2 linked regions of the Homo sapiens genome follow. The protein of the gene in region 1 purifies or fractionates together with the protein of each later gene. This does not show direct contact. Each region holds a gene or a part of one and is shown on either strand. Other genes may lie near its edges.

Region 1 (3,600 bases):
GGGTCTTGCTCTCTCTGGGTGGAGCGCAGTGGTGATCATAGCTCACTGTTGCCTCAAATCCTCGGCTTCAGCGATCCTCCTGCCTCAGCCTCCCGAGTAGCTGGGACTAAAGGCCTTTGCCACCATTCCTGGCTTATTTATTTATTTAGAGATGGGGTCTAATTATGTTGCCCTGGCTGGCCTCGAACTCCTGGCCCCAAGCCTCATGCAATCCTCCCACCTCGGCCTCCCAAAGTGCAGGGACTACAGGCGTAAACCACCATGCTCGGCCTAAGTTTTGTTGTTGTTGTTTTAAGCAAAAATCTGTGGAGGAGGAAACATCTCCCAGTTTGCTCTCATCTGAGTCTGCTTCTTACATGAGATGGGTCTAAAGACATTTTAGGGTAAAAGAAGAACGGTAGGATGTTTTAAATGTACGAATACATAAAAATGGAAGTCTTTGAAAAGGAAGACAACAGAAACGTTAACAACGAAGGGAGTGAGCAGAATGAAGAATGGCATAAAAGAGCAAAACCCCTTCTGAACAGCTGGAATATGACACCAGAGTACTAAAGACTGGTAATGCCATCAGGATATGAATGATAACGCACACCTCGTAAAGAATTTTTTATGCTGGCTGTGAAATTTGAACTGATAGAGTGGGGTGGCTGTGGCAGGGAAAGCTGGTGAGACAATTATGCTAATGGCAGGGCCAGACGACTGGGTGAGTGCTTAAATGGTGTCGTAAGTCTTTATAAACCTTGGCACATACGTTTGAGTACTGGTCATCTACTGTAAGCTTGGGACAATTCTACTGGTATTTCCTTACATTTATTACCCAGTCCCTCCCCTGTCCCCCAACACCTGAAACTTTAAAAACAATCTTTCCAAACTAGCTTTGAAGAGCTGTACTTTTCCTTCGTATGTACGTTGTTTAAGTACGCTGATAGCAACGCAATATGACAATTCAAAGGGAATCCCGTCTTCTAATCTCAGGGTTTTCATTCTGGGGAACTCTCCCTGCATGTGAGGATTAGGGAGCCCGGAAAGCCCGTTTCAACTTTTCAGTTCTGAGTCCCGAGTCACTACTCTGCCCTGTACCGTCTGGAGACTTAATGGGAGCGAGTGCGAGGCAGTGAATTCTCCGCTCTCTAGTTTTCCAATTCTACGGTCTTCAAAAAAAGGTTTGCTCTTGAGCTGCGCCTAAACTGAGAAGCGGGAAAGGCTAGCCCCGCTAAAGGCGGACGAGTGGCAGAAGCGGAAACCCAGTTAAGAGAAGGGACTGCCCTGGAGAGCACAGAAAGCGAAGGTTAGCGGGGGAAAGCGGCGCCCCTCCGAGGAAACCGACACCGCCCCGCCACGCCAAGGCAATGGGCGCCACCACGCAGCGCCGGGAACGCGCGCCGACGCCCCGCGCTCCGCCGGCGTCCGCCCGTCCCCGCGCGCCCCCTCGCACCCCACGCGCGGGAGGCGGGGCCGGCGGGGGCGCGCGCGGGGCCGCGGGTAGGGGGGCGGGGCGGCAGAGCTCGGCGGCTGGGACTGGAGGACAGCGGTGGCGGAGGCGACTAGCGGCGGCGGGAGCGGCGCCGAGAGGCCGTGCGGGACGCGGGCGCCAGGACCGGCCGAACGCAGAGGTAACGCAGGACCGAACAGGCGGCCGGGGAGTGGGCGCGGGCTCGCTGGGCCCCGAAGGCGAGTGGCGGAGGCCGCTCGCCCGGGGCGCCGACGCCGCTCCCAGAGAGGAGGGGGCGGGGCGCCCGGGTCCCCGGAGGTGGCGCCTTTTGTCTGCCTTACCCGGCCGCTCCGCCCCGCTCCCTTCCTCTCTCCTGCGACCTAGCCCCCTGCCCTTTTGGTGGACTCCTCCTCAGGGGCCCTCCGGCGCGCGCGCTCCCGCCCTTGTTTTGTTTGGATTTGGGGGAGGAGGGGGAGCTCTTCTCTGGCCGTGCGACCCTGCGTCCCAGCGCGCCTGCGTCGGCGTCCTCTGCCCGCCCCGATTGGCTGAGGGCTGCGCATGCTCCGAGGCCCGCCGCGGTCCGGCGTCCGCCCGCGCCCTCCCCTCACCCCACTCCCTCAGCGGTTTTCGGAGCCGGTTCGAAAGATGCCGGCGGCGGTGACTGGCTGCGGCGGGCCCGCCCCCCGGGTTCTCCGCCCCCGCCGCCGCCATTACGGAGCTCCCAGTGGTGAGTGTGCGGAGCGCCGAGGCTCGCGTTCCGCCGCTGCTTCCGTCGCCGGGGCGGGCGCCGCGGTGTCCCTGCCGAGCGTGAGCCCCGAACTGTCACCGCGCCGAGCCCCAGCCTCATCCGTCGGTGTCCGCGGTCCGAGCTTTCCCCGCCTCGCTGGCGGCCCGCGCTCTCCCCCGCCGTGCGCGTTCGCCGCTGTGGCCTGTAGCTACCTCGCCTCGCTGCTTTGTCTCCGCTGCTCTTGCCGTCCTTCCCGCGGCCTTCTGCGGGCGGGGCTGTCGGCTGTCGCTTTGCTGCTCCGCGACGGCGGCCTTGAGTCTCGCTCCCCCGGTGGGAAACGTAGAACTGGTTACTCGCCACCTTAGGCGGTGGGGTTTGAATGAGAGCGGTGCCTCGGTAGGTCGTCAGAAAGTTACAGTCGCCCATCTGAGCGTTTGTAAGAGATGGAGGCAGGAGTGGTGAGGTGAGAGCCCCAGATCTGAGGGTTGGTACTGCATTAACAGCTGTGACCGGGGACAGCCACTTAACCTTTTTGAGAAAGAGTTGTCTCCCGTACGGAGACCGGACCGGGTGAACTGTGCTGCCGCATCCGCGTGCACGTTCTCTCTGTTGTTTATTGTGCTTCCTGACTTTGCATTGCATTAAAAAGTGAGAATCCAATTCGAAATAACGTCTAAAAATCGCCTGGGGCTTTTTGAGCACGCTGTCTTGTCTTAGAGTGAAATTAGAGGTGACTAGTGTCATTTTTGAAAGGTGCTCTAATTTTGTTTAACCTGACATAGGCAAAAAACTTGTTAGCTTTTTGATTTTTCATTGCTCTTCTCAAAAGTTTAGTGTAATTTGTTTCAAAATAGAAGTAACATTTTAAAGTTTGCTGGGTTGGTTGGTTTTGGCTTTGTTTTTAAGCTTGCTTGGAAGATTGTAGGGCTGGAAGTTAGTGGAGAACGTATACTGAACTCTTCATTTCCGGATGAAAGTTTTAACTCCTTACCCAGTTAGATTGTGATTTTATTGAGATGAGACACTGTAGTGTCCTTAGTATCTATGCCCAAAACAGACACTGAGTATATGTTTGCTTATATAACTTACATTTGAAAATGAAAAACAAGTGGTGTCAGCAGTCAAATTACAGGCATGCTTTTTGTGACATGACTCGTTAAATCTGAGTGTAGTGAATGACTTAAGATTGGGAACAATGTGAGGTGTTCAGCGCATCACTAATGACATGTATTACATATATTTTATGGTAAAATGTGAAATTATAGTGCTTTCCCTAAAATGCATATTATCAAGGATATCAGTAAACTGAAATACGTTGTTAAACTCCTCACTTTTCTACAGCCTTCTCTTAATGTAGAGGAAATAAATTAAAACTGAAATTTGGGGCTTTTTATTTCTACAATACTTTTTTTTATTGCTTGCATTCAAATAATTTAAAGCC
Region 2 (3,729 bases), on another chromosome or scaffold:
CAATCTTTAAAATATTTTGCTATATACATTTTCACCCTTTATTCTAACACCAACCCTCAGCAAACTGCAGAAATTGTAATTTCTTAATGAATCTAACTGTGTACTCACTATACACATCAGTGCAACTACTTCCCAAAAAAAGGCAGGCATAATGAGTATACATGATGTTTCATATTAATTTGTTAGTAAGATCAACAAAGATAAAGCTATCAAAATTGAAATAAATGTTACAAGATTAAAATACACAAAGCAACCAATGTCTCATTTTTCAGAAATTCAGCTCATTCACTGGCACTCATAGCAACTCTCTATAGGTAACCATCACGTTACTGATTACCACTAGACACCTCAGAGACTTTGAAATTCCAAAGAGTTACTTGCCCATGATTACACAAGGAGTCAGGAGTACAACAGGATAAAGAAACCTTCCCAATCCATTAGACCACGCGGCCTCCCAGTTTCAGCACTGCTATGCTGCCAGTACTCCTGTAACAAATTTCCCATCACCCATCCAACCAAGCTTTGTCCCTTCACCACAACGCGTTTCTTCAGAATGCCCTTCTTAGCCACCTAAGACTCCCCCAATGATGAGGCAGCCGTAGGTGGAGTTCACAGGTCTCACTGCAGAATCTGAAACCAGATGCACCTACATCTTCGTAGCACGAGGCGTCCATTCTCTCCCTTGATTTTAGGTCTTACATATCTGTTTTGTCATGAAATTAGTGGTTCTCAAATTGAGCCTGTGGATCACCAGAGGCCACTAGGGCCTAAATGGTGGTCCACAGATTAATCTCCATCCCATCCCCTTCACCACAGCCCACCCCACTCCAGCCATCCTCCCTCAGGCTTCCAGTCCCATGGCAAGATCACCACATGCAGAGCTAATACTAGGGCCTCCCAACCACTTGCTGTAACCAGCAGCTGACAACCAAAAGGTCCTGGGGCTACAGGTCACAAGAGGAGTGAGGAACGGGGGCCAAGAGATCTTACAAGAAGGCACAGGCACTAATGAAGCGGGTGGGGTGCGAGGGCAAAGGAATAGAGGAATGGAAAATTAAGGTGGTAGAGGGCTCTTGGGGGCAGTGATCCACTAAAAATAAACCTGTAATAAAGTATCCCATGATGAAGAAAAATTTGAGAACCACTGCTTTGAAATGATTAGGTTAGTAGTCCAGCAGGAACTGTGGAATATTCTGAACAGCACCTGATACACTATTAGCGTTCAAAATAAAGTTAAATCACCCCTTCAAAAGCAGCAGTAACAATTTTTAAAATAACCTTATAAGTTAGTGGCTCTTGAGCCACATTTATACATTTGCCATTTTCTCATGAATCCAGTCCGTCTTCAGTGTCCGCCCTGGAGCATATACACATAGCAAATTTACTTGGAACTTTGGTTAGAGTCACTGGTCTTTTCATGCAGTTTTAATAAACAGTTTCCAAAAAATTTAAACTTTTTGTTCGACACTTTCATATGTGCATATACTGTGTACCTTTTTAATCCAGGCTTGGGCACCAGTATTGGCCAACTGTTCTTGTGTCAAAACCTGTACTCCTGTACTTCCTGTGAACTGGCCAGGAATAGAGTTCAGCTGAGCCCAGGCATCAATCTGAAGAAAAGAAGTAGTCTCAGTTAACTAAGTAAAATTACCTGATTAAAACATCACTGGTAATAATTCACTAAAAATGGCTGAAAAGCAGACTTAAATATTTAACTTTTAAAACATATTTAACATTAAATGTTTGCCTAAACTTTCTAAAGAAGCAGTTTGACAACATTTAGTGAATCCCATTAATAAGATTTTGAAATGTATCTAAAAGCACAGCTACTAAAAAATACAGCTGTTAATATTCTTCAAACTATCACACAGATACACTAAAAATGCAAAAAAGAGCTCATATGACAATGGGTCCCCACCCTCCCTTCCTATCTCATACAAATGTATTGTAATACATGTCATGACAGCCTGGATTCTTAATTACTTCCTTTGAGACATTTATACAGACTAAATTCATGACACAGGTTTAAAGAGTTTAAATGTAGGAAACTGTCCACTTGAATACATAAACGACTATTTTTTTTTGAGATGGAGTTTCTCTCTTGTTGCCCAGGCTGGAGTGCAATGGTGCGATGTCTGCTCACTGCAACCTCCTCCTCCCGAGTTCAAGCGATTCTCCTGCCTCAGCCTCCAGAGTAGCTGGGATTGATTACAAACATGCGCCACCGCGCCCGGCTAATTTTGTATTTTTAGTCGAGACAGGGTTTCTCCATGTTAGTCAGGCTGGTCTTGAACTCCTGACCTCAACTGATCCGCCCGCCTCGGCCTTTCAAAGTGCTGGGATAACAGGCGTGAGCCACTGCACCCGGCCGTAAAACAACTTTTTAAAGAAGCTTGTATACTTTTTTTCAGTCACCAACATTTGTTGTGATAAAGATCAGCTGTCATTCACACAAATTAGATTTACTAAACACCTTGCACTGTCAGCAATGTATTTCCTGTCTGAACATGTACTTACTGATTTACCATAAAACAGTAGAAATGAAATGGAGAGGCTGTCCATTGTTAAAAGCACAGACTCCAGATTCAGATTGCTTGGGTTTGAATCCCAGTTCCCCCACTAATTAGTTGTGTGACTATGGATATCACTTAATCACTCTTTTGTTTTTTTTAGACAGTCTCACTCTGTTGCCCAGGCTGGAGTACAGTGGCGCGATCCTGGCTCACTGCAACCTCTGCCTCCCAGGTTCAAGCATTTCTCCTGCCTCAGCCTCCTGAGTAGCTGGCATTACAGGCATGCAACACCAAACCCAGCTAATTTTTGTATTTTTAGTAGAGATGGGGTTTCATCACCTTGGCCAGGCTGGTCTTGAACTCCTGACTCCTTGCCCCCACCTCGGCCTCCCAAAGTGCTGGGATTACAGGCATCAGCGACCATGCCTGGCCTTAACCACCCTTTACTTCAGTTTTCTCGGCTGAAATATGGCAACTATTAATACCTACACATTTCATAGGGTTGTAGGCACTTAGTTGTTTTTATACACCAGATTGTAAACTCTGTGAGGACAGGGAAATTTTTCTATTTTGTTCTCTCAAGAAACAGTTCCTGCCACATAGTAAACAATAAACATTTATTGAATAAATGATCAGGCCTCGAATCACTTTCATTTAAAATAAGACATTGAAAATAAGGTAAAGGATGTTACAACTCAACCATCTAGTTAGCAAAATTCTTATTTAGACATTAAAACTGGTACATTGGTGTGAGTTGGCTGATGGTAAATAATAATTTTTTTTAAAAAACTGCTACATACCCTTTCCTGAGCTCTATTTAACATGCTCATGGCTTCAAGATCAAATGCATTCTCACTGAGTCTTTTCTGAGCAAGTGCCCGTTCACTCATTGCTGTAGAGATGTCCACAGGCTAAGAAAGAAAACAGAGATAATTATCTCAAATTACCATAGTCCCCTAAATTCTGAAAAGTACTCATATCTTTAGTTGCTACATATCAAAAACAAAATAATAGTCTTATAATACTAATAATCTTGGAAAACAGGGAGAAGACTCAGAAAGAGAAAGTAATCTTGGAAAACAGAAGAGGATTAAGATAAATTACAAAGTATCACACAGGTCGCAGAACTGAACCCAAAATCTGACTGAATTTAGTCAATTTTCTATTATATATATATATCAAACTATAATCATAGAAAGTTCCATTAAGAACTTAA

What was found. Proteins that work in one complex are often made in the same cells at the same time.
Region 2: the proteins of HP1BP3 (region 1) and SON fractionate together in Homo sapiens (co-fractionation; one large-scale study listed by BioGRID). This does not show direct contact.

Annotation. Positions count from the first base shown.
Region 1 is NC_000001.11:20,785,208-20,788,807, reverse strand, and holds the start of HP1BP3 (heterochromatin protein 1-binding protein 3), read left to right. Parts: upstream 1-1,500; 5' UTR 1,501-1,613; intron 1,614-2,135; exon of another isoform or gene 2,136-2,622; intron 2,623-3,600. UniProt on the Homo sapiens protein: Component of heterochromatin that maintains heterochromatin integrity during G1/S progression and regulates the duration of G1 phase to critically influence cell proliferative capacity.
Region 2 is NC_000021.9:33,566,852-33,570,580, reverse strand, and holds part of SON (protein SON), read right to left. Parts: intron 3,425-3,729; coding exon 3,314-3,424; intron 1,611-3,313; coding exon 1,494-1,610; intron 1-1,493. UniProt on the Homo sapiens protein: RNA-binding protein that acts as a mRNA splicing cofactor by promoting efficient splicing of transcripts that possess weak splice sites.